Linked DNA regions of Homo sapiens. The protein of the gene in region 2 interacts with the protein of the main gene of each other region in a biochemical or structural test. Each region holds a gene or a part of one and is shown on either strand. Other genes may lie near its edges.

What was found.
Region 1: of the proteins of SSH1 (region 2) and DSTN, one has a biochemical effect on the other in vitro, tested with the Homo sapiens proteins (one study listed by BioGRID).
Region 3: of the proteins of SSH1 (region 2) and CORO1B, one has a biochemical effect on the other in vitro, tested with the Homo sapiens proteins (one study listed by IntAct).

Annotation. Positions count from the first base shown.
Region 1 is NC_000020.11:17,599,378-17,609,615, forward strand, and holds part of DSTN (destrin), read left to right. Parts: intron 1-1,360; coding exon 1,361-1,668; intron 1,669-5,177; coding exon 5,178-5,254; intron 5,255-7,659; coding exon 7,660-7,769; 3' UTR 7,770-10,238. UniProt on the Homo sapiens protein: Actin-depolymerizing protein. Severs actin filaments (F-actin) and binds to actin monomers (G-actin). Acts in a pH-independent manner.
Region 2 is NC_000012.12:108,854,009-108,864,085, forward strand, and holds the start of SSH1 (protein phosphatase Slingshot homolog 1), read right to left. Parts: upstream 3,576-10,077; 5' UTR 3,489-3,575; coding exon 3,420-3,488; intron 3,287-3,419; exon of another isoform or gene 1-3,286. UniProt on the Homo sapiens protein: Protein phosphatase which regulates actin filament dynamics. Dephosphorylates and activates the actin binding/depolymerizing factor cofilin, which subsequently binds to actin filaments and stimulates their disassembly.
Region 3 is NC_000011.10:67,439,262-67,450,153, reverse strand, and holds the start of CORO1B (coronin-1B), read left to right. Parts: upstream 1-6,677; 5' UTR 6,678-6,750; intron 6,751-7,523; 5' UTR 7,524-7,525; coding exon 7,526-7,726; intron 7,727-8,065; coding exon 8,066-8,188; intron 8,189-8,291; coding exon 8,292-8,421; intron 8,422-8,639; coding exon 8,640-8,821; intron 8,822-8,909; coding exon 8,910-9,029; intron 9,030-9,714; coding exon 9,715-9,819; intron 9,820-9,890; coding exon 9,891-10,036; intron 10,037-10,310; coding exon 10,311-10,368; intron 10,369-10,892. UniProt on the Homo sapiens protein: Regulates leading edge dynamics and cell motility in fibroblasts. May be involved in cytokinesis and signal transduction.

The DNA.
Region 1 (10,238 bases), on a different chromosome or scaffold from region 2:
GCCTTGCTGAGGAGTCATTGGCACTTGGCTCTGCTCCTTCAGCTTCTTCACTGTCTCATGGTCACTCCACAGGTCCCTTTTGGTGCCTACCAGCATAACAGATACATTGAGGCAATGATGGGAGACCTCTGGGTACCACTTATGCCTCACATTGGCCTAAGAGGATGAGTTGCCAATGGAAAAACAAATGACAGAGATATTGGTCTTGGGGATAGGAGAACAGTCGCAGTTGGTCATATTCCTCCTCTTGGCCAGTGGTGTCCCACAGGTTCAGGCTGATGATTTGGCCATCCACAGATGTCTGGGTGCTGTAGTTGTCAAAGACATTGGGCATATACTCCTTAGGAAAGGCATTTGTTGTATAACTGATGGGGAGGCAGGCTTTGTCTACAGCCACATCTCCTGCAATCACACATTTGATTGTCTACATTCTTCCCTTAGTCTGATCATCCTCCAGTGCTGTTCAACCATGACTGGCAGAGCCTCCTGGGCATCTCTTGTTGGGCTTTATAATTCTTGCTTTAGAAAAGCTAACATGCAAAACAAAGTAGTTAATGAGGCATTAACAATTATGGATATAATAAAGTTAATGTAAATAGCACATTCCTCAAGATGAAAAAATTAAAAACTGGTTTAAGATCTTGTGCTATCAAGATTTTGTTTAACTGTCCTTCAGCCCAGAATAGCAAGTATAACATAGCGAAAGGTAATTTTTCTGGTCAGTATAATCCCTAATTAAGCTACCCTCTTTATTATAGCAGTAGACATTTTCTTATTTATTCTAATCTTAGTTTAAAATTTGGAATTTTTAAGTGAAATTTTAATGGCAAGTGTGACTAATACTGAATATTGATCACATAATTTTGAAATGTGAGTAGAGCAAAGACCTCTTAATAAATCTTTTTTTTTATTAGAGAAAGAGATGCTGTAGGGATGGAAATTTCCCAGTCTAGCAGCTATGACCAGCTACTGTGTATTACAAAAGGAATTTTAGGTATCATGAATATACACACTGGGAAGATGATCTGCCTGTAGTCAAGGCTCTAAGCAACCTGTATAAGAAGAAAATAACCCAGCACCTTAGGAAACACTTCTTTTAAGGTTCTAGGGTAGGAGAGGCTGCTATAGTTGAATGTTTCCTTACCCCTGTGCAGTAGTGAGGAATGGCATATATTTGTGATCTTTTAAAAAGTTTGATGTCTAAAATTAGTAGTGATTACAGCTCAAATTTCTAGTTTTTTAATTAGATGATATACCTTTAAAATGTTAAATATATGCCAATCTATAAGCAGAATTTATTATTTTATGTTTGGCACAATAAAAATTGTAAGTCTTTTTCTCATGTATTTTCTCATCATAGGCCTCAGGAGTGCAAGTAGCTGATGAAGTATGTCGCATTTTTTATGACATGAAAGTTCGTAAATGCTCCACACCAGAAGAAATCAAGAAAAGAAAGAAGGCTGTCATTTTTTGTCTCAGTGCAGACAAAAAGTGCATCATTGTAGAAGAAGGCAAAGAGATCTTGGTTGGAGATGTTGGTGTAACCATAACTGATCCTTTCAAGCATTTTGTGGGAATGCTTCCTGAAAAAGATTGTCGCTATGCTTTGTATGATGCAAGCTTTGAAACAAAAGAATCCAGAAAAGAAGAGTTGATGTTTTTTTTGTGGTAAGCATGTTAGAAATATTGAGCCTCTGTAAAACTCATTTTGTTAGCACTCGGGAAGACCAGTTCCAGCACCAAAGTAATTTTTATTCAAACTATTTGCAGTTGTTGTCATTTAATTTTTATTTACAGGTTTCATAATGTTACCAGGGCTGATGTTTATGGGACCCAAACTAAATTTTGACTATTTTCTATCTACTTGTTATGTGACTCTCCGTTTTTGTTTTTTTTTTCAATGGGGAAAGGACAGGAGGCATCCTCTGAATGTACTGCTTTTATAGGCTAAAATTTCCTACTACTTTTAACTTTCTTACTTATAAGCCAAAACCCTACTTTTCCAACGAGCCATGCCAGGAACCAGCCTTCTATCTACTCTTTTAAATTACACCCCTTCCTTGTGCCTCTGTGGTCTACTACTTTTGAAGAAATTGGTACCATTCCCTCCCTGCTATAATTTGCTCTACAGTTGCACTGTTTAGTAGTGTAGTCACTAGCCACATGTGGCTATTTAAATTATTTAAAATTAAAAATTCAGTTTGTTAGCTGAATGAATTACCACATTTCAAATGCTCAGTAGCCACATCTGACTAGTGGCCACCTTATTGAGTAGCACAGATACAGAACATTTCCATCATTGCAGAAAACTCTGTTGGGCAGTGTTACTCTTAGATAGTGAAACAGGGCTATAAAGTTATTTTTATGGCCTTTTTCTTGAAATGTTGTTTAGTTATTCTGGTCTTTTCAGGCAAGTCGGTATTTGAGATGAAGCTTTAGAAAAAAGTTACACCTGGATCCCTCATTTATTGAATATTATACTGCATTCCTTGATATGGCCAGGAGTAGAATTCTTTAGTTTCTAAGGGGAGGGAGAAATGGTAACACTACCTGATTTTTTTCTTTTTTTTTTTTTTAGAGGGGCAAGGATTCTCTTGATACTTTGGCCTGAGTCAGGGCAAGGCAGGGAGGGACTTAGCTTTTAGCTATGTGCCATCAATAGCTTGGAGTGTAAAAGGGATATGGGAGTAGGAGATGCAGAGGATTGTGGTTTAAAAAGGAAGATAACTCGAGGTCACACCTCACTTGTATTTCAGTAAGCTTTTACTGCACTTGATTAAACCAAGTTGCTGTGAGGAATGCAAATATGAGGTCAGGGTGCACGTATTCAGGCAGCTTAGAGTCCATTGAAGCTGGTACATAAGACTGAAAATTAACAAGGATTTGAATGAAGGTGCATTTACTGAACTTTATTTCTACTACACGCCAGCTATTGTGCGAGGGCCTGGGAAAACAGCTGTGAATAAAACAGGTTAAGTCCTTCCTCTTCTGGCATTCACAGCTGAGTGGCAGACAGGCCAGCTAATGGTTTAGGCTTTTAAATTGGTCGGTATTTCCTTAATTTGCAGGTATTTTTTCTGCTTTTTATGTATTTTGTAATTATGAAAAGTATGCATTCTTATTTTTTTAAATGTGGAAAATAATAGAAGAAAAGGAAATTTAGTGTTAGTGCAGTGGTTTATTTTGCACTGTTACACTGTTACTTAAGAAAAGGTAGAACCTTATTAAAGGCATTTTCTATAACAAGCTCCGCCCATGGCCCAGGGAGCAGCTCTTAAAGTAGTTTAACAATTTGGTTAGAATAAAAGCAGAACAGCTGATGCTTTTTTATGTTTCTGACCTATTTTCATAACAAAAGTACCCACTCTGCTGGGCGCAGTGACTCATGCCTGTAATCTCAGCACTTTGGGAGGTGGAGGTGGGCAGATCACGAGGTCAAGAGATCGAGACCATCCTGGCCAACCAACATGGTGCAACCCCATCTCTACTAAAATTAACTGGGCATAGTGGCACACGCCTGCAGTTCCAGCTACTCGGGAGGCTGAGGCAGGAGAATCGCTTGAATCTGGGAGGCAGAGGTTGCAGTGAGCTGAGATCACGCCACTGCACTCCAGCCTGGGTGACAGAGCGAGACTCCGCCTCAAAAAAATAAAAAATAAAAAGTACCCACCCTGTAGCTCAAACATCTGCCAGTCCTGAGGTTGTGATGGCTCTGCCTCCTTCCCTGGACCTTAGGATTGGGAGGAATAAGCCTCTGAGAGACAGACTGCCCTTTTTCCCAAGAATGGAATCTCTGCTCACTAGGGTAAGGGGTACACTAGGTGAGGTCCACATGCCAGTGCTCATGGCTGTTGAATGTCCTGGAAATATGGCAGCTAAATGGAATTATTAAATGCTCAGAAGTATTTAGCTATACCGTAATATCTTAATGACCTCCAGTAGGCTCTTGGAAACTACAGCTTTAAGCAAAACAACATACACCAGGTCCTCAAATAACGTCATTTCTTTCAATGTAGTTTTGTTATAACATTGAGAAAAAAAAATACTGGTTTTGGTATATGTCATTTTGTTTTAAGTCACAGGCTCCAAGAACTGATTGACAATGTTAAGTGTGGACTTACTGTACTGCATCTTCTCTGTGATATTTTAGCAGTGTGGCATGGAGGTGGGCCTATGGGTTGGCGTACAGAGGAAAGAAGGACCTCCGTGCAAGCAGTCTGAGTGGGAGGGTTTCTGTCCGTTACTAATCATCCTTATTCTTCAGTGTTGCTGCTGAAGGTGCTGTGACACATATGCTGTGCTTCTAACACGCTTCCCTTCAAGAGGGAGAACGTGCTCCAATGTTATAAATATAAAAAGATAGTAATAATATTGACAGTTAAGACATAATTATTGGTGAGTTGCCATTTAGAAATCTTTAGAATCATGAGATTATACAAGTGGATTTAATATTTTTTTCCAGAGAATTATTGAAACGTGGATGCCCAGATCTGTAATTAAACATGTATTGTTATGTTAGACTAAGAAAACAAGTACCTGTGGGATCAAAACCTGCTATTGGAATAGATGAAGGGACTGGGGAAGTCTAAGAAAAGGACTTTTATTTGTAATTTATTCTTTTTTGTCCTTTTTTTTAAGTTTTTGATTTATTCTTTTTTAGAAAACAATCTGAAGCAAAGGTGCCAAAATATTAGCATTTAATTCTGGGTCACACGTACTTACGGATTATTCTCTGTACTTTTATGTATTTTAAAACTTTTTTCCAACTAGAAAAACTGTCAAAAACCTTGTGTAAATATTAGCCTGAATCCAATCCCTTATTAATAATAATGAAAAATATTCTGAAGAAAAAGAATTGGGTTATACAGTGAAGTACTCAGTGTTGGTTCTTTCATTATGGCGACTGTAATCTGATTTTTAATTGGTGATTGTCTTTTGCCACCAGTGGTTCTCTTCTTTTTTCCCACCCTGGTCAACCTGAGTGATTCTGCATATGCCTATCTGTAGCATTTCCTCTCTGAGCTGCTGGGGAGGTAGAAAAAATGTGCAGTTAAGAAAAAATATCTCAGGAGAGTCTGAGGATTCTCAGCAAATGTTTACACAAGCAAATGTTTAACAAGTTGCAAGTTATACTTTCTCTAAACCACTTTTTTCATTTTTGGCATCTTTCTATCTAGGGCACCAGAACTAGCACCTCTGAAAAGTAAAATGATCTATGCAAGCTCCAAGGATGCAATTAAAAAGAAATTTCAAGGTATGTTCTAGATGACCTCTGAATATGTAGAGGTATGGTGAACACTCAGAATGGGGCAGCACCTTTTCTGAGAAGCACCTTATTTTTTTGCAGAGCTTCGGGCACAAGGGAGAAGTGTTACTTGTTTTGAGAAAAGCAGAAGACTGAATTTGACTTTCCATGTATCTTCTGCTTTGTGCTGGTTGCTCTGGGTCTGCCCAGCCTGTGTTTAATAACTATACCCTTGACATTGTCTATATATATCGTTTATTCAGGCTGGTTTTAAACTAGTTTGAGGTGCTACCAGTTTTCTCATGTAGGAGGTGGAGACTGATTGTTTAACATTGGACATAATAGTAAATTTGCTCTTGCCTTTGAATGTAGTTGTTATAATAAAGTTGCAAAAAGGAAATGTACCTAAATGAGAAAGGATGCTCTTTTCTCCAGCTTTACTGTTGAATGGCATGATTTTAGGTAATTAATTCATCTGTGTCCCAAGGAAAGTGCACCCACTCCTGAGCTGGTCAGTTGTATTTGACTTGCCACTGGGTGATTGGGATCCTGATGAGATGGCCTGGCCAGACTTCAGCCAGGAGAAAATGTTGGTATGATGGAAAGAACGTGCATGGGGCAAGTGCCCAAAGGCCTGCACTGAGGGCGAAGCCTGTCTAACTGCTGTGTGGCCTTGGCCAGAACTGCTTAACCTCCATGGGCCTTGATTCTCTCAGCTGTAGAAGGGGAGACTTGGTCTCATGTGTGAGTTTTAGTTTAAGAGTTTGCCCTGCCACCTTCCTGCCATGGCTGTTTCCAAACAGCTGAGTGAGCCAAGGTCACAAGGGCTTGGCCTGATGTTGATTTTGTTTTGTTTGTTTTACTGTCACTGGTTTTTATATTTTCATGGTAGAACAGGTTTGCCCTAGCCTGTTTTACTTAGTTCGGAAAAAAAAATTCTTGCTTCCTTTCCCGAGCCTTGCTGCTGCATAGTTTATTGCTGGGTCAGGTTCTTCGTGCATTTGGTTTGATGTTTGGCAACCCCCAGAAGTGTGTCACTGGGTTGCTAACTGACACTTTTAAATCCTTTAGCTTCAACACTTTCCCAGCCCAACCAAAAGGTTCACAGTGGATTCCTTATTATCTTTATTCTGCATTGCCTTTCAGTAAAGGGAATTGCTTTGCACACTTGATTTGGTGATACTAAAAGATAGTGGCCGGCTGGGTGTGGTGGCTCATGCCTGTAATCCCAGCACTTTGGGAGGCTAAGACAGGTGGATCACCTGAGGTCAGGAGTTCGAGACCAGCCTGACCAACATGGTGAAACCCTGTCTCTACTAAAAATACAAAAAAAAAATTAGCCGGGCGTGGTGGCACATGCCTGTAATCCCAGCTACTTGGGAGGCTGAAGCAGGAAGAATGCTTGAACCCAAGAGGCAGAGGTTGCAGTGAGCTGAGATCGCACCATTGCACTCCAGCCAGGGCAATAAGAGCAAAACTCTGTCTCAAAAAAAAAAAAAAGATAGTGACCATGCTGCCTTTTTTCTAATGAAAGCATCCACTGTCTTTCTCAGATCAGTCCTGAGTAGTTCAAAAGCTGACCTGCTGTGCTTTCAGCAGCTTGAGAAATAATGGTCTTTAAATGATGGGAATAACCATGCAGCTATTTAAAAGACAGTGGCCATTTACAGAGAAGCTACTGTATGTAATCCATAATTGAGCTCGTTTTTGCATTGTGGTAGTGTAATTGTTCTAAGAAAGCAATCAGTAACATATTTCACATAGTTTTCATTGTGATCGATTTCATAAATGTGTAGTGTAATACCATTGAAGAGCCAGCTGTTTACTTTTCAATACAGTTGACAAAATCAACTGTGCAATCAAAAATCATTTGTATTTTTATGTTTTAAAAACCAAGAAAATTTTCTTACTAGACCTGCCTTTTAGCTTTTTAGCAAAGTACAACATATCTTTAGAAAAGTGTATGTCACAAATTATTGTAGAATGTGTTGAATTTTTCAGAGTGAACATAATGGTTATTTCTTAATCTAATGACCAGCACCCCAGAAGCCTCCCTGGTGCTGTTCCCTTCAATTCATAGCACTTCTGCCTGCCCCTTCCTCCTCAAAGTAGCCAGCACCCTGGCTTCTAACAGCGTAAGTTAGCGTGGGCTGATTTTGTATGCTATACCTATATATATAATAGAATATATGCATTTTAAATCTGGATTCTTTCAGTGAATGCTGTTTGTGAGGCCCATCTATCTTGATGCATGTAGTTACAATTATTTTTTCTCGTTACTGTGTAGTATTCCGTGTTTGTATATACCCCAGTTTATCCAGATTAGAACTGGTCTTTTAAAAGTTTGGTTATCTTAGAGAAAGAGGTAAACTGCTGCCATAATTGTAAATAGAAGTGTTGTTTTTTCTCTCTAGGCATAAAACATGAATGTCAAGCAAATGGACCAGAAGATCTCAATCGGGCTTGTATTGCTGAAAAGTTAGGTGGATCCTTAATTGTAGCCTTTGAAGGATGCCCTGTGTAGATTATTCAGTGCCACAAATTGAAAGCTTCCATGTTTAATGTTATCCTCTTGCTATATAAATAAAGCAAATATATTTAGGCCAGGGTCTCACTGAGGGGGAGCTGTCTTGTCATCTTTTAGAGTAAACTATTCTATAAACATATGCAAACAGCCCTAAATAAATCTAAAGTCTAAAGTTTTATTGATGTGAAATTAAATTCTTATTGGCCAAATGCCTGTTTTGATGAGTTGATTTATAAAGATTTTTGTTAAGCTCAGGATTTTAAATTACACAGTTCACAAACAGTAAAGGCCATGTGAAGAGAATTATTACATCTTTATTAACCTCAGCATTTACTTTGTTTCTTTTGCTTAGGAAATTGCTCATAATCTGGTTATAATTTTGGTCCAAATTCTTTATTCTTCCTTGAGCTAAGCAGAATAATGGAATATAATATGTCTTCATAATATAACAACACTAATACACTAATAGTAAGATTAAGTTAGGCAGTCTTCTACCAAATGTGTAATGGAGATTGCCTCAAAATTGTGTCCACATAATCCACGCTCATCTTGCAAAGCGCTATTTCAGGCACATCATTGGAATACAGGAAGTAGCCCTGCACCTGCCAGTGAGCTCGCCATTCACTGATTGGAAGAGTGACCTGGCATCTTGGAAATCATTGTGTGTCTTCAGGAGAATGTGCAGTGTCTTGTAACAACTAATTATAATGCAAATTAGGGCTACATTGTAATCTGCTTTGTTAATGAAAATGATAAAACAGAATATTGACAAGCTAGGACACCTGTGGTATCTTTAATTGTATCTCCTTCAGAAGTTTGCTTCTTATGGTATAATAAAGTATGGAAGAATATTGAGTATATGTTTACTCTGGGCCTGGGAGAACTTAACTTTCTAGAGCAGTTTGTTGACTTGTGTGCAATGGGGAGAGGTACCATGATGACACTCACAGGGAGCCACTGTTCACTGACACTTGGAAGCGGTCATTGTTAATATCACGGGCGTAACACTTTGAACGATATAGAGATGCACAAACAGTTGAACTTAGAAGTAGCAGTATTGGCTTTATGTAATAAAGGAAGCATTTTTGACTTACCTCTCGTGTAATTTTCATGTGTGAATTGGGAATACAGGATTTTGCCTTCCATATGGGGTAAGGCATTGAGGTTTGGGTATTTCCAATAATTAAGAGTTAAGGTTGGCTGAGTGTGGTGGCTCACTCCTGTAATCCCAGCATTTTGGGAGGCCGAGGCAAGAGGATAGTTTGAGGCCAGGAGTTTGACAATCAGCGTGGGCAACATAGTGGGATCTCATCTACTAAAAATAAACAAAATTAGCCGGGTGTGGTGGTGCACGTCAGTAGTCCCAGCTACTTTGGATGCTGAGGTGGGAGGATCACTTGAGCCCAGGAGGTGAGCTGAGATCGTGCCACTGTACTCCAGCCTGGATGACAGAGCAAGACCTTGTCTCAAAAAAAAAAAAAAAAGTCACAACTCCCTCTGGTGAATAAGAAAGTTGGTGTAAAAGTTGGGAACGTTTTCAATGTTTATTACACTATAAGTGTAATAAATATTATACAAAATTATAAATTCACATTTAAAATTTAGAAAATAGAGAAAAGGGAAATTATACATTGTCCTACCACATGCCATCACATGGTTAGCATTTTGATACACAGCTGTGCATTATTACATGTCAAAGACTGCATATACTATGGTGGTCCCATACAATTATAATGTATTTTCTACTGTAATTAGATACACAAATACCATTGTGTTACAGTTGCCGACAGTATTCAGTATAGTAACGTGCTGTCCAGGTTTGTGGTCTAGGAGTAATAGGCTCTACCATACAGCCTAGGTGTGTAGTAGGCTATGCCACTAGGTTTAAGTGCAGTCTAGGGTGGGGAACATTTTAATGTTGATCCACATGCCAGGTGTTTGTGAGACAAGATTATGCTTTAATCAAAATATTTTGGAATTGTCTAGAAAATAGTGCTGGCTGCTTGTCATTCATCCTGAATTGCTTGTTTCTTTACTTTGTAGCAATGCTTTTAGTGTGGGTTTTGTTTTTTGAGACAGGGTCTCACTCTTTCCCCCAGGCTAGAGTGCAGTGGTGCAATCATAACTCACTGCATCCTTGAACTCTTGGGCTCCAGCAAGCCTCCTGCCTTGGCCTCCTAAAGTGCTGTGATTACAGGTGTGAGCCACTGTGTCCTGCTAGTGATTGTGATTAACAGGCCTCCAGGGAAGTGCCATAAGCCCAAGACTGCCGTACTCAAAAGTCAGCCATGTAGGTAAAGCAAGATATTTGGTCAAGGAGTTTTAGAAGGAGATTTTTCCTGTGGTGTTGGCTTAAGTGTGGCACTGTTGTGCGTGTGTGAGGTGTCTTCTGTGGGAAGGATTTCAAACAGTACAAAGGGATGTGATGTAAGCATCCAGAACTCACTCCAGAAATTGAATAAAATG
Region 2 (10,077 bases):
CCTACCCCACACTGAAGGAGAAGTGGAAAGAGCAGGGAAGGCTTCAATGACCACAAAACAAGTCACAAGAGCAACAAATTGACAAAGAGTATGTTGGGGTCTAACCCAGTGGTTCTCAATGCGGAGCAAGTTCTCTCAACAGGAGACATTGGAAGATGTCTGGAGGCATTTTTCTGGAGGTCACTACTGGCACCTAGTGGGTAGAGGACAGGATCCCACAACACACAGGATGGTCCCCCCACAAGAGAGAATGTTCTGGTCCCAAGTATCAACAGTGGGTTGAGAAACTCTGGTCCAATCCAAAAAAGTGCCTGGAGATCTGCCCATGAAAATTAGTCACTTTGAATGTTTCTCAGAAATAACAATGTTATGATCCATTCCTGAAAATTATTGATTTATCTATTCTTGTGCTCTGCCTGTTCACACAAAGGAACTGAGATAAGATTCACAGGAAAATGACATAAGTGACATAATCAAAGACTGGGAAAAAAAGAAAATTAAAAGAGAAAAGAGAGCCTTAGGACTGAGGGCTGTGATCCCCCGTTTCCCACGCCGGCAGCAGGCCTGGCTGTGTCAGGAAAGCACTGCCCTAAGTGTCTGACTCATTATGAAGTTGCAATTTGAAGAGTGATGACGTGACTTGGGGGTACGGACTTCACAATCATTTAACTCTCGGTCACTCTCTGAGGTTCTCAGATGAAAGGCCATCTCAGGTCAGTTATTCCAGGGAAACTACATCTGCCAAGGAACACATGAAAGAGGTAATTCAGTCCTTTTAGATGAGCCAGGGCCCACACACAGGAAGCAACTCAAGCGAGGGCGGACCAGGGCAGAACCGGCCTGGCCTAGGTCTCCTGACCCCATACACACTTGCTGTCTCCATCCCACCTTGCTTCTCACCTCAACACATCTGAACGAGGGCCTTGCCTTCGGGAAACATCCCAGCGCATTCAAAGCCAAGCAATGAATGCTGCAGCTTTGCTATGATCAAATAAAAGCTGCCTGAGTTTTACTTTATGTTTATCAGGGTCATTGGCACTTGGTAAAAATAATGCTTTATATAATAATTGAAAATGTATCTAGTAGACACAACACAAATGTCCAACAAAATGTGGTACATCCATACAATGGAGTATTATACAGCCATGAAAAGGAATGAAGTACTGCCACATGCTACAATATGCATGAACTTTGAAAACGTGATGCTGAGTCAAAGAAGCCAGACACAAAAGGCCACACAGGGTGTGATTCCATTTATATAAAATGTCCAGAATAAGCAAATCCATAGATACAGAAAGTAGATTAGTGGTTGCCTAAGGTTAGGGAGAATGGGGCAGGGGGAGGCTGCAGGTGAGGGCTAACGGGTACAGGGTTCCTATTTTGGGGAGGATGAAAATGTTCTGGAATTAGATGGTGGTGGTTGCACAATCTCATGTATATACTAAAAACCACTGAATTGTACACTTTAAAATGGCAAATTTATGGTATGTAACTAAAAAATAATAAGACCTTAAAATGCGTAAGACAAGAACAGATTAGGTTGCAAGTAACTCTAGGAACATGGGGTTTTGAATCAGAAATCTGGGCTGACAGGTTCAGCCTGAAGCCAACCTCTCCCCTTACCTCACATAAACTTTTGTGATGAGAACCTGAGATTAAGTGCATAAATTGCCAGACAGCAGTGACCGGAACAGAAAACAGCCCCTCCTCGCTGTGGGAAGGAAAGGCGCTCCTGCAACCTAACTTCTCAGTAGCAGGCTATTGATCGCCAGTGTTCTTTTGCCTCTAATCAGCGTGTAGAGGGGGATTACTAGAACCTTCTGTGTATAGATAACTCATGAATGGCCTCTCCTCTCCAAGGAGGGGGCTGTGAAGGTTCAACTTCCCAGCCACTCTGAAAATGTCCCTGCCAATCCCAGCAAAACAAGGCTGAAGAACTACCCTACCAGGAGACAGGGCTGTCAAGCCAAATGCAAACATTATTCTCTTGTCTCTCTCAGACACACAAACCTCCCCCGTGTTATCAGTCAACTTCCCCCACTCCCTCCCACAAAGAAAGGGGCTGAAGAGCCCAGATGCTGGCTGCGGAACTTCCTGGGCCTGGGACCGCAGGGCCGCTCCTCCAGTCTTCTCTAAACACAGCTAAGGGTCTGCAGGCGGACACTCAGCCTTGTTATAGGTAAGAGTTTAGACCAGAGGCCTTGACGGGTTCTTCAAGAGATGGTGGGCAAGATTGCGCGACCAGAGGGTCATCCCTGCAGCTACAGAGGGCTGACCTGCTCAGAGGCCCAAGGCCCCAGCCTAGGACAAGCCAGGCCAACCCTGCAGGCTAAGAGGGCAACAGTGCCCTCAATCAACCCCAGAGGAAAAAGTGGCCAGGCAAACGGACCTGGGCCACACACAGACCCACAAAAACGCGCACAGTGCCAGGACACGCAACCCAGGAATGCACCTATGCAATCACCCAGAATGGGTCACAGCCACACAGAAAGATAGATGCACATAAACACACAGGCCTGAGTGATGTTACAGAAAGGAAAAGCCAGACTAAGGCTGCACGCACAGACGTGAAACACAGCCACACAGAGCCCACAGCACGCTCGGTCACCGTCACACAGTGACACGGGCACGCCTACAGACAGAACTCCAGAGGCGGCAGGCGGGGAAACAATCTCACACGTTTGTAGGGGCACTCCCAGATGCCTGTCTCACGCTGGCACAGTCCCCGGACGGCAGGTCAGCAACAGTCACATCTCACATCGCACAGCCAGGCATACAGGCAAAGGGCCTAGAACTACCCCGGCCACAGGTCTCAGAACCAGCGGCTCACGCAGTCACCCAATCAAGGGTCCCAGTTGCACATCCAGTCACCCCTGGACCCTGGTCACACTGCAGAGTCACTCACAAATGGGAGTCCCGACAGACGCACAGTCCTCCCCAGACAGAGGTCAACCCAAGATGGGGGTCACACCTGAAATCACAGTCCCCACACAATCACGAGGTCACATCTGCACACACAGTCTCTGCACAGTCACCCTTAGGGGTCACAACGCACACAGTCTCCGCCTAACAGGGGTCACCCCAAGATGGGGGTAACCCCCTGATGTGGGTCACAGCGCACACACAGTATCCTGCAGACACTCCCAGAGGGGTCGCACTGCATACACAGTCCCTGCAAAGTCGCCCCCCGATAGGGGTCACACCGCACACAAAGTCCCCGCACAGCTCCCCAAGACAGGGTCACATCGCACACAGTCCTCGCACGGTCACCCCGGTCCGGCTGCCCGGCTCTGTTCCTACGGCGGGGCCCCGAGGAGCCCGCGCAGCCGCCCCCCTGCCCCGCACGCGCGGCCCCAGCTCCGGCGGCCTCGGCGCGGCGTCCGGCGGCCCAGGCCGGGCGCGGCGAGCCCGGGGCTCACCTCGCTGTTGCTGGCCGAGGAGGAGGCGGCGCTGGGCGTGGGCGAGCGCTGCAGGGTCACCAGGGCCATGGCTGCGGCGCGGTGCGAGGGCGCCACAGACGTCTCGAGCTAGAGCCGCCACCGCCACCGCCGCCCGGGCCGGGCCCGGGGCCTCCTGGAGCCGCGCGCGGGCGGCCGGGCCGAGCCGGGCCGGGCCCGCCCCTCCCCCTCGGCGTCGCCACCGCCCCCGCCCCCAGCTCCCGCCTCCCGCGCCGGCGCGCGCAGGCCTCAGTGCGCGGAGTGGGCGGGGAAGCGGGCAGGGCGGGACGAGGAGGCGCGCGTGCGCGGGGGCCCTGAGGGCTGCCCGAGGCCTCGGCTGGTCGATCACGTCCCTCGCGCGCCCGACACACGCGCCCCCGCCCGCGCGCCCCGCTATCAGGCCTGGGACTCGGGGGCGCGCGCGCCGCCCGGAGCCCGTACGCCCCAGGGGCCCTGCCCGCTGCTCTGCCTGGGGAAACTGAGGCCCGGCGACCGTGCAGACAGGACTGTACAGCGACCAGGAAATAAAAGACGTCCTGGGGCCGGGCGCGGTGGCTCACGCCTGTAATCCCAGCACTTTGGGAGGCTGAGGCGGGCGGATTACGAGGTCAAGAGATCGAGACCATCCTGGCCAACATGGTGAAACCCCGTCTCTACTAAAAAGACAAAAATTAGCTGGGCGCAGTGGTGCGCGCCTGTAGTCCCAGCTACTCGGGAGGCTGAGGCAAGAGAATCGCTTGAATCTGGGAGGCGGAGGTTGCAATGAGCTGAGATCGCGCCACTGCACTCCAGCCTGGGCGACAGAGCGAGACTCGGTCTCAAAAAAACAAAAAACAAAAAACAAAAACAGTAAGCAAAATAGATTCGCCTGATTTTGCAGAGGTTAATCAAGTTATTAGGCACGTTTTTAAAAAAGTATTTTGCTAATCTTTTTCAATGAATTCTTTCTGGGTGTTCTGAAACCCAGCCAACTCCTTGGAGGTCAGGGAAGGCTTCCCAGAAGAGCTTTATTCTGAGGCTTGGGCTTGAGCATAAGCAGGATTAACAGGTGAAAGAACAGAGAGACAGCTCTCCAAGCAGGGGGGATCAGCGTGCCCTGAAGCAGGAAGAAGTTTGTCAACCGGAGGCCAGCACTCAGGGAAGGGAAGAGGGGAGGAATGGCTGGAGTCTCCATCCTCTCTGGAAAGATCGCTCCGGCTGCTGCGTGGATGAGGGACCACGGGGCAGAGGGCTGAGGGAGACCAGGGAGGAGGCTGCTGCTGTTGTCCCGGGGAGAGGTGACCAGTTATGGGGATGGAGAGGGGAACATGGAATAAGATACCAAGAAGGCAATTCTGGCTTGACTTAGTAGTAGGAAACTTTTCTTTTAGCCAAAATCTCATCTCCCGGCTCCCACCCCCAACCTCTGCATGTTGCACAAGCACTCGCAAACGCAGTGGTCCCAGCCTGCCCCGCAGCTTAGCAAATTTGTCTTACTGCCCAACAGGAAACCCACGCAGCCTCCTGGATTCTTCCCCGTCCCTCCCTCTGTCCTGGGGCTGTGACCTCCTCCATGTTATTCACAGGGTCTCAGCACGATTCATCTCAAAGGTGATTCTAGTGGGGGGCACTGTAGCTTCTACGGAGCGTTTCTAAGAGGGGATTTGTGGGAATGTTTGTGGTTGTCTTGCTGATGGAGGGGGAGAGCTCCTGGCATTTAGAGTGCAAGAGCCTTGGATGCTAAATGTCTTCCAATGCACTGGACAGTCTCCCCAACAAGAATTGCTCCATTCCCACAAAATGTTTCCTGGGTGAAAAACCCATTTATAGTAATTTGAAGCCAGAACCTAACTCCATTTCATGCATCAACACTAGTCTTCCTTCCTTCCTTCCTTCCTTCCTTCCTTCCTTCCTGCCTTCCTTCCTTCCTTCCTCTCTTTCTCTCACTTTTTTTCTGAAACAGGGTCTCACTCCCGTCACCCAGGCTGAAGTGCAATGTCACAATCATAGCTCACTGCAGCCTCCATCTCCCAGGCTCAAATCATCCTCCTGCTTCAGTCTCCTGAGTACAACGGGTACACACCACCACACCCAGCTCCTTTAAAAAAAAAGTTTAACTATGTTGCCCAGGCAATCCTCCTGCTTCCGCCTTCCAAAGTGCTGGGATTACAGACAGAAGCCACCATGGCTAGCCTGGTATTTTTTACTGAATTTTCAGAAAGGTGACTATGTTGAAACCCTGTCTCTCCTAAAAATACAAAAAATTAGCCAGGCATGGTGGCGGGCACCTATAATCTCAGCTACTCAGGAGGCTGAGGCAGGAGAATCACTTGAACCCGGGAGGCAGAGGTTGCAGCAATCTGAGATCGTGCCACTGCACTCCAGCCTGTGTGACACAGCAAGACAGAGAGAAAGAGAGAAGGGAAGGGAGGGGAGGGGAGGGGAGAGGAGGGGAGAGGAGGGGAGAGGAGGGGAGGGGAGAGGAGGGGAGGGGAGAGGAGGGGAGGGGAGGGGAGGGGAGAGGAGGGGAGAGGAGGGGAGGGGAGAGGAGGGGAGGGGAGAGGAGGGGAGGGGAGGGGAGGGGAGGGGAGAGGAGGGGAGGGGAGGGAAAGGAAGGGAAAATACACTTTGTTTTGCTTGAGAGTTTTGTCAAGAGTTGTTCATCCATCCTTAGGGAAAAGGAGGTAATGGATGGCAACGCCTCTGCTAATATTAGAGCATCCCACACAAGGTGCCCACAACTGTAGCTGCACTCTAGGTAGACAGACAGTCATAGGTACTTAAATGTCAAATATAAGGGAAAATTGTGGACAAAATTCAGTTGAGTAGAGAATATTTTATTTCTCAAATCCAAGCACATTGATTATTGGCAGGCCCATGCTTCTGAGATGCCCCTGTGTCCTCTAAGGGAGTAGTGGCTGAGCATTTCCACATTGTAATGCATGTTGTTTCATTATGATTTATTTTTCTTTTATGTCTCTCTTACATTAGTTTTCAAATTTGAGAGTTTGAGAATCCCCTGGAGAAAATACAGATTGCTAGACCCCACCTCCCAGAGTTTCGAATTCACAAGGTTTGCTGTAGGGCTGGAAAATTTGCACGTCTAACAAATTCACAGGCAATGCTGATGCTTCTGTCTGGGGACGACAGTCTGAGAACTACTGCCTATACAAATGCAATGGCCTCTTCACCAAGAAATTCCTACCTAGATCTGATCCTGGTACCCGTCCGTGGCCCCCAATCCTAATCCCCCTGCTCTGGCCGGCCTGCTTTTCCACTCACCCCAACTTTTTTGGAGGCAGTCTCCACCCCTTCTCACTTCCTCTTAGAGCTGAGAGCCCTTTTCTTCCCCACAACTAACTCTTGCTAGAAATCACCTCCAAAAAGCTTTCCCTGCCCCTTAAGCAGTGTCATTTCCAGGATCTCGTAGCCCTCACCCTACCCTTAAACACACAGCAAGTGTCAGTCTGCCTTATCATAATGGGTCCATCTCTCTGTCTTGTCCCATTACCGTAGAGCCAGGAACGGTCCCTAAGAAAAGCCTCAGGAATCAGGCTGGGACCAGCGTGAGGGTGCAAAATGTAAGAGGGTGCCCCCAAAAACTCAATGATTAAGATAAATAGTATTTTAATGCAATATTTTAGAAAATCAAAATTAATGCCAAATCCATGATGAATAAAATATTTTTAAAATTTGCTTTTTTTTTTTTTTTTTAATTGAGACAGAGTCTTGCTCTGTTGCCCAGGCTGGAGTGCAGTGTGGCACAATCTCTGCCTCTTGGGTTCAAGCAGTTCTCCTGCCTCAGCCTCCCGAGTAGCTGGGATTACAGACCCCCACCACCATGACCGGCTAATTTTTGTATTTTTAGTAGAGATGGGGTTTCACCATGTTGGCCAGGCTGGTCTCAAATTCCTGAAATCAGTGATCTGCCTGCCTCGGCCTCCCAAAATGCTGGGATTACAGGTGTGAGCCACTGCACCTGGTCAAAATATTTACAAAAATTTTTTAAGAGCCAAGGTCTCATTCTGTCACCCAGGACTGGGTGTAGTGGTGCAATCCTAGCTCACTTCAGCCTTGAACTCTGGGCTCAAGCCATCCTCCTGCCTCTGCCTCCGGAGTACCTGAGACTACAGGTGTACACCACCACGCCTGGCTGACTTTATTTTTGCCAGAAACTGGGTGTTGCTATGTTGCCCAGGCTGGTTTCAAACTCCTGGAGGCACTCAATCCCCCGACCTTGGCCTCCCAAAGCTTTGGGATTACCGGCATGAGCCACCACACCTGGCCAAAGTATCAAATTTTTAAGTAAAATTGGCATCAGTATTGTGTCACTGATTCTTCCACTTACTTCAGACTTCAGTGTAGCTCAGCAAAGCACTTTTATTGATCCTGTCTTTATTTGATTCTTTTACAACTTTGGCCATTCTAAAGCCTTTTGTGAAAATGGCCTGTGGTTCAGCTGGGCATGGTGGCGTGCACCTGTAATCCCAGCTACTCGGGAGGCTGTGGCAGGAGAATCGCCTGAAACCAGGAGGTGGAGGCTGCAGTGGGCTGAGATCGTGCCACTTTTGACACTCTGTCTCAAAAAAAAAAAAAAAAAAAAAAAAGGAAGCCTGTCGGCTTGACTCCAGTAGCCTCTGATGGGGTGGAGTGGACAAGGGGAAGTGAAAGCTCCCAGGCCTCAGTCAGGGCAGGTCCCAAGAAGCCCTGAGCATGGAGGAGGGGAACAATCCAGTAGAGGCAGCTCTGAAGTTTTCTCCCATGCATTAGAGCCCTTTCCAATCAGTATCATGATTTTTCATCATATAATAGTTTATTTAATCATCTTTGACCTCCTCCTTGTAGTCCCAGCTCACTTTTGTAACTAATAAAAAACAGTGAGTTATTGAGCTATTTGCTCTCTGCTAAGGCACAATGCAAAGTGCTTTGTGAGTGTGTGGGGGACATGATTTATTAACATGTGACTGTCCCCCCACTTATACTCCAAGATCACCTCCTCCAGGAAGCCTTCCTTGCCCCGTGGCTGGGTTAGGCACCCCTTCTCTGTGCTCCTACAGCCCCTGTGCATTAGTGACAATGGCATTGTGGATCTGCCCTAGGCCCATTTCTGGGTTGGGACACTTTAGGTACATTCATTCTTGTCACCCTGTGATTCTCATTTCATGGGTGAGGAAATTGATGCACAGAGTGGTTAAGGCACTGGCCCCAAGTTATGTAACTAAGGAGTGGTGAACCTGGTTCACCCATGTTTTTCTGCTTTAGAACTCAGGCAAAGACAGGTTCTTCCAGGACAGCCTCAGAAAGTGTTGGTGCAAATTAGGTTGGTGCAAAAGTAATTGCGGTTTTTGTCATTTTTTTTTTTTTTAATGGTGCAAAAGTAATTGCGGTTTTGTCATTAATGACCAACTATTATAAGTAATAGTTCCCTTTTTTTTTTTTTTTGAGATGGAATCTTGCTCTGTTGCCCAGGCTGGAGTGCAGTGGCTTGATCTTGGCTCTCTGCAAACTCCGCTTCCTGGGTTCAAGTGATTCTCCTGCCTCAGCCTCCCAAGTAGCTGGGATTACAGGTGCCCACCCCCATGCCCAGCTAATTTTTGTATTTTTAGTAGAAACGGGGTTTCACCATGTTGGCCAGGCTGGTCCCGAACTCCTGACCTCAAGTGATCCACCCACCTCGGCCTCCCAAAGTGCTGGGATTACAGGTGTGAGCCACTGCACCTGGCCAGTAGTTTGCCTGTTAAAGCAAATAACTTGTAATTTCTCCTTAATTATTCATTCCAAAATGATATTCAGAGGTAATAAAGCTCTGATAGGCTGAATAATGGCCTGCAAAGATGTCCATATTCCAAATCCCTAGAATCCCTGCCTATGTTACCTTGCATGCTAAGAGGGTTTTACAGATGTGATTAAACTCAGGATGTTTAGATGGGGAAATTTTCCTGGAGGAGGCCCAAGAGGTCCTAATGTAATCACAAGGGTCCTTATAAGAGGGAGGTGAGAAGGTCAGAGTCAGTAGTAAGAGATGTGACAACGGAACTGAGGGATTAGAGTGAAGGAAGAGGCCACAATCCAAGGAATGCAGGCAGTTGCTAAAAGTGGAAAAACACCAAAAAATGAATTCTCCTTTCAGAGCCTCCAGAAAGAATGGAGCCCTGCTGATATCTTTTTCTTTTCTTTTTTGAGTTAGGGTCTTGCTCACAGAGCTGTCACCCAGGCTGGAGTGCAGTGGCATCATCATAGCTCACAGCAGCCTCGACCTCCAGGGCTCAAGGGATTCTCCCACCTCAGCCTCCTGAGTAGCTGCGACTACAGACACACACCACTATGCCCGGTTGACTTTTTTTAATTATTATTATACTTTAAGTTCTGGGGTACATGTGCAGAATGTGCAGGCTTGTTACATAGGTATACACGTGCCATGGTGGTTTGCTGCACCCATCAACCCGTCATCTGCATTAGATATTTCTCCTAATGTTATCCCTCCCCTGGCCCACCACCCCCTGACTGGCCCCGGTGTGTGATGTTCCCCATGCCCGGTTGATTTTTAAGGGTTTTGTTTGTTTGTTTGTTTTTTTAGAGACGAGGGTCTCAGCTGGGTGCAGTGGCTCATGCCTGTAATTCCAGCACTTTGGGAGGTAAGGCGGGCAGATTGCTTCAGCCC
Region 3 (10,892 bases), on a different chromosome or scaffold from region 2:
CACACAGAGCTCAGGGCACCAGTGGGTCTAGGAAGGGCAAAGGCAAAGACGGCCGGGCGCGGTGGCTCACGCCTGTAATCCCAGCACTTTGGGAGGCCGAGGCGGGCGGATCACAAGGTCAAAAGATCAAGACCATCCTGGCCAACATGGTGAAACCCCGTCTCTATTAAAAGTACAAAAATTAGCTGGGCGTAGCGGCGCACACCTGTAATCCCAGCTACTCGGGAGGCTGAGGCAGGAGAATTGCTTGAACCCGGGAGGCAGAGGTTGCAGTGAGCCGGGATTGTACCACTGCACTCCAGCCTGGCGACAGAGCAAGACTCCATCTCAAAAAAAAAAAAAAAAATTAGAAAGGGCAAAGGCTCCCAGAGGTCACACAGCTTCTCTAGGGCAGAACCAGCTCTTCCCTCTCAAGCTGCTGATGCTGCAGAAAAAACTAGAAGTGCTGAAGGTCTATCTTCCAACCCCCACTCCACTTCCCTTTTCCTACCCATCGTCCTCTCCTGGCACCCACCCCACCTGCGTTCTCCTTACCCCCAGTGTTCCAGTCATGCCCCCTTATCCCATTAGCTCAGTATCGTGACCTTCAGCAACTGAGACGCCCTTTCCGGCAGGTGTAAATGACAATGATGTCAGATGTGCAACCCTTCCCAGAGACACCTGCATTTTCCAAATGCAGCAGGCTGTGCAGGCAGCCTAGAGTGATACAGTCAGGTCTGGGTTCTGGTTCCTAACTTCCTTCCTCTCAGCCTGTTTTCTCCTCTGTAAAATGGAGTGATCATGTTCCCCTTGCAGGCTTGGCAGTTCTGATCATTGACTGAGCCCAGGGATGGGAAGTGCTGTGGGCGGTGGTGGTGGTGATACCAGAAGCATAGTCGTAGTGATGGAATTGCGGGCACTGAGGCCCATGGGAGAGAGATTTCTGGCCAGGCATGCATTTATTGAATTCATTCATCCAGTATTTCTTGGGCACTCGCTAGATGCCTTTCTGGCCAGCCTTCCATTCTGGAGCCACTTGGGTGAGGTTAAGGGTTTGCCCTCTTGGCTGGGCGCAGTGGCTTACGCCTGTAATCCCAGCACTTTGGGACCCTGAGGCAGGCAGATCACAAGGTCAGGAGATCGAGACCATCCTGGCTAACATGGTGAAACCCTGTCTCTACTAAAAATACAAAAAAAAAAAAAATTAGCTGGGCGTGGTGGTGGGCACCTGTAGTTCCAGCTACTCGGGAGGCTGAGGCAGGAGAATGGCGTGAACCTGGGAGGCGGAGCTTGCAGTGAGCCGAGATCGCACCACTGCACTCCAGCCTGGGCACACAGAAAGACTCTGTCTCTAAAAAAAAAAAAAAAAAAAAAAAAAAAAAGAGTGCACTCTCTGGTGACCATCAGGGGTTGTTTGAATCCTGGCTCCACCACTCACAGGCTGTGTGACCTTCCACAAAGCTCTTAGCCTCTTTGGGACTCAGTTTCCTCGTCTGTAAAATGAGGATCATAATAATGGTACCCATCTTGCAGGAGCGTGAATCCCTATGAAGTGTTCGTGATTGTTAGCCATTAATTTGATGACAGCAGTGGGCACCCCCCGGTCTCACTCAGCCCTGGGACCAATACTGAGCCACAGGCCAGCGCCTGAGTGGCAGATCGCCTGCCCCCCAGGCCTCCCCACCATGGCACTGCCTCCTGTTCCACAAGGGAAGTTCTCACCCTCCCCATCCCACTGCAGTCCACACTCTGAGCGCAGGGCCTGGACTTCGGTCCCCATTAGGGCACTCCGCAGTGCCCTTCTCCCTTTTTCTGGGCAGGGCTCCCAGGGCCTTTTCAGCATGGCAGGCAGATTGGGAAATAAAACCTCAGCATCAGCCACTTGCTTTCAGCTCTGGTCCACACTCCAAACCCTACCTCTTGGGGAGTGGGCCAGTCCCACGTCCAAGGACCCCAAAGGGAATCCCACCCATAATGCGTGATTTCTGTCCAGAAGAAAGAGCAGCAGACCATCACCCTTGGTCAGCCAGAGCAGCGGATGCTCAAGAAAGGAATAAGTGAGGTAGCTGGTACCCCAAAGCCGCCAGCCTGAGGGAGGCGGGGCAGACTCCACCTGTGGGACAGGATGGGGTAGAATGCCTGAAGGGTTTTGCGGAATAAAGAGGAGTTCTCAGGCCAGGCACGGTGGCTCACGCCTGTGATCCCAGCACTTTAGGAAGCCAAGGCAGGCAGATCAACTGAGGTCAGGAGTTCAAGGCCAGCCTGGCCAACATGGTGAAACCTCATCTATACAAATACAAAAAATTTGCCGGGTGTGGTGGCGCATGCCTGTAATCCCAGCTACTCGGGAGGCTGAGGCAGGAGAATTGCTTGAACCCAGGAAGCGCGGGTTGTGTAAACCCCCGAGGGGTTCGCCTTGCCTGCTGCCTAGACAGAGCCAATTCACGCAGAGCCGGCTGTGCAGGAGACTGCAGTTTTATTCTTACTCAAATCAGACTCCCTGAGCATTCTCAGGGAGCTGAGTTTTTAAGGATAACTTGGTGGGTGGTGGGAAGCCAGTGAGCCAGCGGTGCTGATTGGTCAAGGATGAAATCAGAGGGAATCAAAGCTGTCATCTTGCACTGAGTCAGTTCCTGGGTGGGGGCCACAAGATCAGATGAGCCAGTTGATTGATCTGGTGGTGCCAGCTGATCCATCAAGGGCAGGGTCTGCAAATATCTCAAGCGCTGACCTTAGGAGCAGTTTAGGGAGGGTCCGAATCTTATAGCCTCCAGCTGCATAACTCCTAAACCATAATTTCTTTTTTGTTTGTTTGTTTGTTTTGTTTTTTTGAGACAGAGTTTTGCTCTTGTTGCCCCAGGCTGGAATGCAATGGCGTGATCTCAGCTCACCACAACCTCCGCCTCCCGGGTTCAAGCGATTCTCCTACCTCAGCCTCCCGAGTAGCTGGGATTACAGGCATGTGCTACCACACCCAGCTAATTTTGCATTTTTTAGTAGAGACGGTGTTTCACCATGTTGGCCAGGGTGATCTCGAACTCCCGACCTCAGGTGGTCCGCCCGCCTCGGCCTCCCAAAGTGCTGGGATTACAGGCGTGAGCCACCATGCCCGGCCCTAAACCATAATTTCTAATCTTGTGGCTAATGTTAGTCCTACAAAGGCAATCTAGTCCCCAGGCAACAGGGAAGTCTGCTTTGGGAAAGGGCTGTTACCATCTTTGTTTATAAACTAAGTTTCTCCCAAAGTTAGTTCAGCCTATGCCCAGAAATGAACAAGGACGGTTTAGAGATTAGAAGCAAGGGCCAGATGAGGTGGCTCATGCCTGTAATCCCAGCACTTTGGGAGGCCGAGATGGGCTGATCACAAGATCAGGAGATTGAGACCATCCTGGCTAACACAGTGAAACCCTGTCTCTATTAAAAATACAAAAAAAATTAGCCAGGTGAGGTGGTGGGCGCCTGTATTCCCAAATACTCGGGAGGCTGAGGCAGGAGAATGGCGTGAACCCAGCAGGCGGAGCTTGCAGTGAGCCGAGATCGCACCACTGCACTCCAGCCTGGGCGACAGAGCGAGACTCTGTCTCAAAAAAAAAAAAAAAAAAAGAGAGAGATTAGAAGCAAGATGGTTGGTGAAGTTAGATCTCTTTCACTGTCTCAGTCATAGTTTTGCAAAGGTGGTTTCCGTTGCAGTAAGCCGAGATCGCGTCACTGCACTCCAGCCTGTACAACAGAGCAAGACTCTGTCTCCAAAAAAAAAAAAAAAAGAGTTCTCTCAGTGGTCCATGGAGGAGGGTTTTGTGTTAGAGAAAATGGGCATGAAGGTGGGCTCAGCCCCAAGACATTGCCCAGCCACACACCTCCTGCCTACCACATCCCAGGGGACCAGTCTCCTGCTGCCGTCTGGAAGACTCACTCCTTCTCCGGTGAGAGATGCCCTTCCTTCCCTCTCCTTCATAGGTGCCAGACATTGATCCTGAGAATTGTGATTATGAGTATTGTTCAATTCTACATTCAGGGCTGCTGCTCATTCATTCATTCCTCATACATTACTTGATCCCATACTGAGTGTTGGATCTTGTTCAGGGTGCTGGGAATACAGTAGGAAGATAGGCAAAGTCCTTCCCCTCAATTTGCTGACATCCTGGTGGAGGCCGACACAAACCAAATACACCAATAAGCACCTGATGCAACATCAGGCGGCGCTGGAGAACACAGGCCGGGTGGTGGCTCACACCTGTAATCCCAGAGTTTTGGGAGGCTGAGGCAGGAGGATTTTTTGAGGCCAGGAGTTTGGAACCAGCCTGGACAACATAGGAGACCTCCATCTCTACAAAAATAAAAATTAGCTAGGCATGGTGGTACGTGCCTGTAGTCCCAGCTACTTGGGAGGCTGAGGCGGGAGGACTGAGCCCCAGAGTGTGAGGCGGTAGTGAGCTAGGACCGTGCCACTGCACTCCAGCCTGGGCAACTGAGCAAGACCCTGTCTCCCAAAAAAAGAACAATGCAGTCAGGACAAGTAAGACCAAAGAGTGGCTGGGTGAGGAATGGTCCAGGAGAGCCCTAGGAGGAGGTGATGTCTGACCAGAGACCTGAATCGAGTGGGGAAAGGAGCCTTTTTGGGATCTGAGGAAAGAGCTTCCAGATGGAGAGAACAGGATGTGCCCAGGCCTCGGGGTGGGAAGGAAGGTGGGTGGGATCTAGATGATCCTTCTAGCCCCAGGGTTTATAGAGCACTAGGAAAAGCAAGGGCTTTGGACCCAAGCCGATGGGGATTGCATCCGGCTGGATGACCTCAGGCAGGCACCGCACCTCTCTGTGCCTGTTTCCTCAATGGGGTGTGGCAATGGGAATGAGATGGGAGACAAGCCCGAGGTCACCCTCAGACACACAGTGGGGGCCTCTTTTAGCCAGAGACAAGGCTCCTGTGACCTCTGCTCTTCCCCCGCTTCGTCCTCCATCCATCTCTTTCTGGGAAAGGGAGGGTGCCATCGGTCAGCCAGGGCAGTGGATGCTCAAGGAAAGAATAAGGGAAGTAGCCGGTGCCCCAGAGCCGCTGGCCTAAGGGAACGGGGGTACATTCCACCTGTGGAACGGGATGGGGTGGGTCTGGAGAGGCCAGTCTGGGCTCCTTGTCACAGGCGCTGGCTAGAGAAAGAGAGAGGCCTGTGAATGGATCTCCAGGCCTTCGAGGGAGATGGTGGAGAAAAGAAGGCAAGGTGCAAGGGACTCACTGGCCATGGCCCCCTTTCAAATTGTAATAAGAAAGCTCAGCAGAATGCACAGGTGTTTACCCTGAAAAATGGGACTCCTGGGTCTTCCACTCGCTCCATAAACACTGCTATTTTCTGGATGGGCACGGTGGCTCACAACTGTAATCCCAGCACTCTGGGAGGCTAAGGCAGGAGGATTGCTTGAGCCCGGGAGTTCAAGAGCAGCCTGGCCAACATGGTGAAACCCTATCTCTACTAAAAATACAAAAAAAATAGCAGGGTATGGTAGCAGGCACCTGTAATCCCAGCGAATTGGGAGGCTGAGGCAGGAGAATTGCTTGAACACGGGAGGCAGAAGTTGCAGTGAGCCGAGATCGCGCCATTGCACTATAGGCTGGGAGACAGAGCGAGACTCCATCTCAAAACAAAACAAAAAACACACCAGCCTGGGCGACAGAGCAAGAGACCCCATCTCTACAAAAAGTAAAAGAAAAATTAGCCAGGCGTGGTGGTGTGTGTCTGTAGTCCCAGCTACTTGGGAGGCTGAGGCAGGAGGATCCCTTGAGCCTAGGAGGTCGAGCCTGTAGTGAGCCATGATCATGGCACTACATTCTAGCCCGGTAGTGACAGACCTTGCCTCAAAAAAAAAAAAAAAAACCACCCCAACACCTGCTGTTGTTTTCTTTACATTGTTAACCAAGAGCATGAAATTTAGGCCGGGCATGGTGTCTCACGCCTGTAATCCCAGCACTTTGGGAGGCCGAGGCGGGCGGATCACGAGGTCGGGAAATCGAGACCATCCTGGCTAACATGGTGAAACCCCGTCTCTACTAAACATACAAAAAATTAGCCGGGCGTGGTAGTATAAGCCTGTAGTCCCAGCTACTGGGGTGAATTTCTTGAACCTGGGAGGGCGGAGGTTGCAGTGGGCCGAGATCGCGCCACTGCACTCCAGCCTGGGTGACAAAAACTCCGTCTCAAAAAAAAAAAAAAAAAAAAAAAAAGAGCATTAACTTTGATAACTTAAAAAGAGTCACGTGAACATATCCACTGTCCGTGTAGATTCTACATTTATTTGTTGGGGGCGGTAATGGGGCCCCTTGGAGGTGTGCGTTCCGTCGGGGGCCGGGAAGGCGGGGCCTCACCCAATCCTGGAGACTCCTGCGGATGCCATTATGAGGAGCAAGAACGCGAAGGGGCCTCGGGTCCGCTGTAAGGCTGCACCCGCACCTGCGGCGCCTCTGCGGCGGCCGCCGTCGGCCCTGCCCCGCCCCGCCCCCTTCTTCCGGAGGAGCTGCGGTGGGGGCGCTCCACCGGGTCCTAGGAAAGGGGCTCTCTCTGGCCCCGTCCCCGGCGGCCCCGCTCCCGGCCCCCCGGCGCCGCTCAGCCTCCCGCCCAGCCCCTCCGCGCGTGACCTCGGCCCCGCCCCCGCGAGCCCCTGCCCCGCCCCCGCTCCGGGTCCCTCTGTCACTTCCTGAATCCTGCTTCCTGCTTCCCAGAGGCCGGGATCCGGAGCCGCCCGAAGCCGGTGCCGCAGCCCCCTGCGCCCCCGGTGCCCCCGGTGAGCGCGGCAGGGCCGGGGCTAGGGGCGCGGGCTGGGGGCTGGGCGGGGCTGCAGGGGCCGGGCTGAGGGGGCTGAGGGGGGATCGCGGGTCCCAGGAGCCTTTCGCCTCCCCTCTACCCCACTCAGTCCCACTCCCCTTGGCCGCCCAGCCTCTCCTCTCCTGGGCGGAGGTCCCTGGAAGTTGGGCTCCTGGTTCACCCTGGACCCCGATTCGAGGCCGCTCTGGGTTGCTTCGCGGCCCACAGCTGCGTCCCGACCCCGTCCCTTCCTGGGGGCCATGCCGGGGCTCCCTGGACATTCCCTGGGACTCAGAACTGGGCACTCACTCGGCCCCACAGTAGAGAGACTTTTCCTGCTTCCTCTCTCCTTCTTCCCCATTACCTAGCCTCCAAATCTCTGGGAGCAGGAAGGAGGCTGCTCCCGACTGGCTGGGACCTACAGTAGAGCTGAGAGCTCTCCAACCCCGGCACCTCCCACCTCCTGCCCCCGACACACACCAGAGCCAGGGAGGGGCCCTGCGTCCTGCAAAGCCCCTCAGGACTCAGCAGTGGTCAGGGCCGGAGCATTTACCTCTCAGATCACTGCCTGCGGGGTGACAGGCGGCCAGGCTCTGCACCTGTGACCCCATTCTGTAACTGGGTAAACCGAGACCCAGGAGGGTTACGGTGGCCTGGCCCCCGGTTGCATCCTCCCGGCTCACCTTCAGCAGCCTGGGGAGGGCTGGAGTTGTTGGGATGGGCCGGACTGACCCAGGCCTCTCTGTCCCGCAGACATGTCCTTCCGCAAAGTGGTCCGGCAGAGCAAATTCCGGCATGTGTTCGGGCAGCCGGTCAAGAACGACCAGTGCTATGAGGACATTCGCGTGTCCCGTGTTACCTGGGACAGCACCTTCTGCGCCGTCAACCCCAAGTTCCTGGCGGTGATTGTGGAGGCCAGTGGAGGGGGTGCCTTTCTGGTGCTCCCCCTAAGCAAGGTGGGTCCTGTCAGGGTTGGGGGAAGAGGAGGCACCTCGGCCACCCCTACTGGGCCTTTCTGCACACCTTGAATCCCTCATCTTGCCGTTTCTCACACTGCTGGGCAGGTGTTATAACCCAGATTTATCGCCCCAAGTGTTAGCACAGATGGAAAGTAGCCTGTTGCCATAGAGGCAGGGTTAGAGGCAGCAAACATTTCCTGCTCACCTGGCAAGTGGGGCACAGTCACATCTGGGCCACCTGTGAGCCGGGACGTGCATGTCATTCCCACTCCATGGAGGGGAAGACCAAGGCTTCGGGAGGGATGGAGCCCACTGACTGCCCCCTCGTGCCCACAGACGGGCCGCATTGACAAGGCCTACCCGACGGTGTGTGGGCACACGGGACCTGTCCTGGACATCGACTGGTGTCCTCACAACGACGAAGTCATAGCCAGCGGCTCGGAGGACTGCACGGTCATGGTGAGGCACAGGACTGGCTGGGCCAGGGTCGTGGGTGTGGCCGAAGGGGGCCAGCAATAGGACCAGCAGAGGACTGAGCTCGGTGGCCCTGTCCCTACCACAGGTGTGGCAGATCCCAGAGAACGGGCTGACCTCCCCGCTGACAGAGCCGGTGGTGGTACTGGAGGGGCACACCAAGCGAGTGGGCATCATCGCCTGGCACCCCACGGCCCGAAACGTGCTGCTCAGTGCAGGTCTGCACCGCCCCCCGTTTTGTGCTCCCCCCCCCCACGGACCCCTCCATACATCCCAGCAGCCCCTCCAGGGCCCACATGACAAATGGGAAAGCTGAGGCCCTCAGAGTTGGAGAGACCCGTCTGTCCCAGGGTGGTGGGCAGAGTGGGCCTCAGCCTGGTGAGCTAATGGCCTCCTGCCACCCACCCGGCCCGAGCTGACAACCCTCACCTGCCAGGCTGCGACAACGTGGTACTCATCTGGAATGTGGGCACAGCGGAGGAGCTGTACCGCCTGGACAGCCTGCACCCTGACCTCATCTACAATGTCAGCTGGAACCACAATGGCAGCCTGTTTTGCTCAGCATGCAAGGACAAGAGCGTGCGCATCATCGACCCCCGTCGGGGCACCCTGGTGGCAGTACGTGGCTCTGGAGGGCAAGGATGGCTGTGGATAGGCCCAGGACCTTGAGCAGGGCGCTGCACTGACCAGCCTGTCCCCCCGACAGGAGCGGGAGAAGGCTCATGAGGGGGCCCGGCCCATGCGGGCCATCTTCCTGGCAGATGGCAAGGTGTTCACCACAGGCTTCAGCCGAATGAGCGAGCGGCAGCTGGCGCTCTGGGACCCAGTGAGTGGCCAGCCTGAGGGGGCAAACTTGAGACTTGGGCCCCACCCTGGGCCAGGCAGGCAGGGTTCACCCTGGGGAGGCCTGTGGTTCCTAGCTTCTCTGCCTGGAACTTGAGGCTCTCAGGGCCTAGGACTCTGTCAGACTTTCCTCTCCTGCCCCCTGCTCGCCCGACTGCCCCACCACTCCCCCATGGCCTCCCACTGCCTCTGTGTCTTTGCCCATGTTGTTCATGCCAACGGAAGGGCCCTTCTCTCCCTTGCTTGCCTGTACCACCCACTGCCTGCACAGGGCTCCCCGCTCCTCCAGAAAGCCTCCTCCTCCAGCAAGCCTCCTGGCCCCAGCCCTCTCTGCTTCTGCATAGTGACCTCCAGGGCACCTTGAGCAGGGGCTGGTGCCGCTGGCACCCCAGCTCCCCACAGTGAGGTATGTTTCAGCACTTGCTTAGTGGCCTGGGCATAGTCTTAAGGCCTGGAGGAGGCTGGAAAAGAGGGACCCTGGGAATAAAGTGAAGCCAGGAGGGCCAGGTGGGGGTCGTCATGTGGGAAAAGGCATAGAGATGGCAGAGGGCCCACCTGCATTTAGGGGCAGTGCTGGCTGGCCTTAGTGAGGCCAGCTAAGGCCCGTCCTGGTTTGGGATTAGGGGGTGAGGAGGTTCTGCTTGGCCTGACTGCCTGCAATGTGCCAGGAAAACCTCGAGGAACCCATGGCCCTGCAGGAACTGGACTCGAGCAACGGGGCCCTGCTGCCCTTCTACGACCCCGACACCAGTGTGGTCTACGTCTGCGGCAAGGTGGGGCTGGGCAGGGCTGGCGAGGGGCAGGGAAGAGGCGTGCCCAGGTGCTGAGCCCCCTCCCCACACAGGGTGACTCCAGCATCCGGTACTTTGAGATCACAGAGGAGCCTCCCTACATCCACTTCCTGAACACGTTCACCAGCAAGGAGCCGCAGCGGGGTATGGGCAGCATGCCCAAGCGGGGCCTGGAGGTCAGCAAGTGCGAGATCGCCCGGTAAGAGGGCTACCGAGGCCACTCGGGGATAGGGGCATCTAAGGTGAGAGGTCAGGTCATTGGAGGCTGCTTGGGAGCAGGAAACCTTGCGCCAGGGAGGCCCGGCGGGCCATGAGAACTGTCACGAGGCAGCCCGTGTGGGGGTCTAGCCACCTTAGGGGTCGGCCTGCGGAGGTCCTGGGGTGAGGACTGGAAGTGGAGGATGCCAGGAGAGCTGGCGGTGGGTGGGGGGGGCGGTGAGGGTTCCACCCGTGGCTCCTCCTTGCATCCCCAGGTTCTACAAACTGCATGAGCGCAAGTGTGAGCCCATCGTCATGACTGTGCCAAGAAAGGTGAGGCCGCCCGTCCCTCGGCTCACTTGGCCCTTTCTCCAGCAAGCGGGCCATGCAGTTGTGACCAGGGCGAGGCCTGTGAATGGAACATGACCTAGTATGGTTTGTGGGCAGTGAGCTGGACAGATGCCAGCTTGCCCTTGTACCAGCCAGCTGTTGGGCTGTGCCAGTCAGGGGGCAAGTGGGGATGAGACAGAGGGTGAGCAGGGGCCCTGCTCTGGATGAGCCACAGGAGAAGGACACCAGGCAGTCAGGGAGGGAGTGGCAGCCACACAGATCTTCCTGAAGGAGGCAGGACCCATAACACAGCTGGGGTGGCGCCATCCACTGGGGGCAGGCCAGGCGAAGGGCACAGTGGTGGGAATGGAGAGAGGAACAAGGAGTCTGGCTGCAGTGGGGAATCCCATGAAGAGGGGACCGGGCCACATGTGGCTTGGCCTCAGATGCCAAGAGCCTCGGACACGCTTCCATGATTCTCTGGCCAGCATTTGCCGACTGCTCTTTCAACATGCCAGGCACATTTT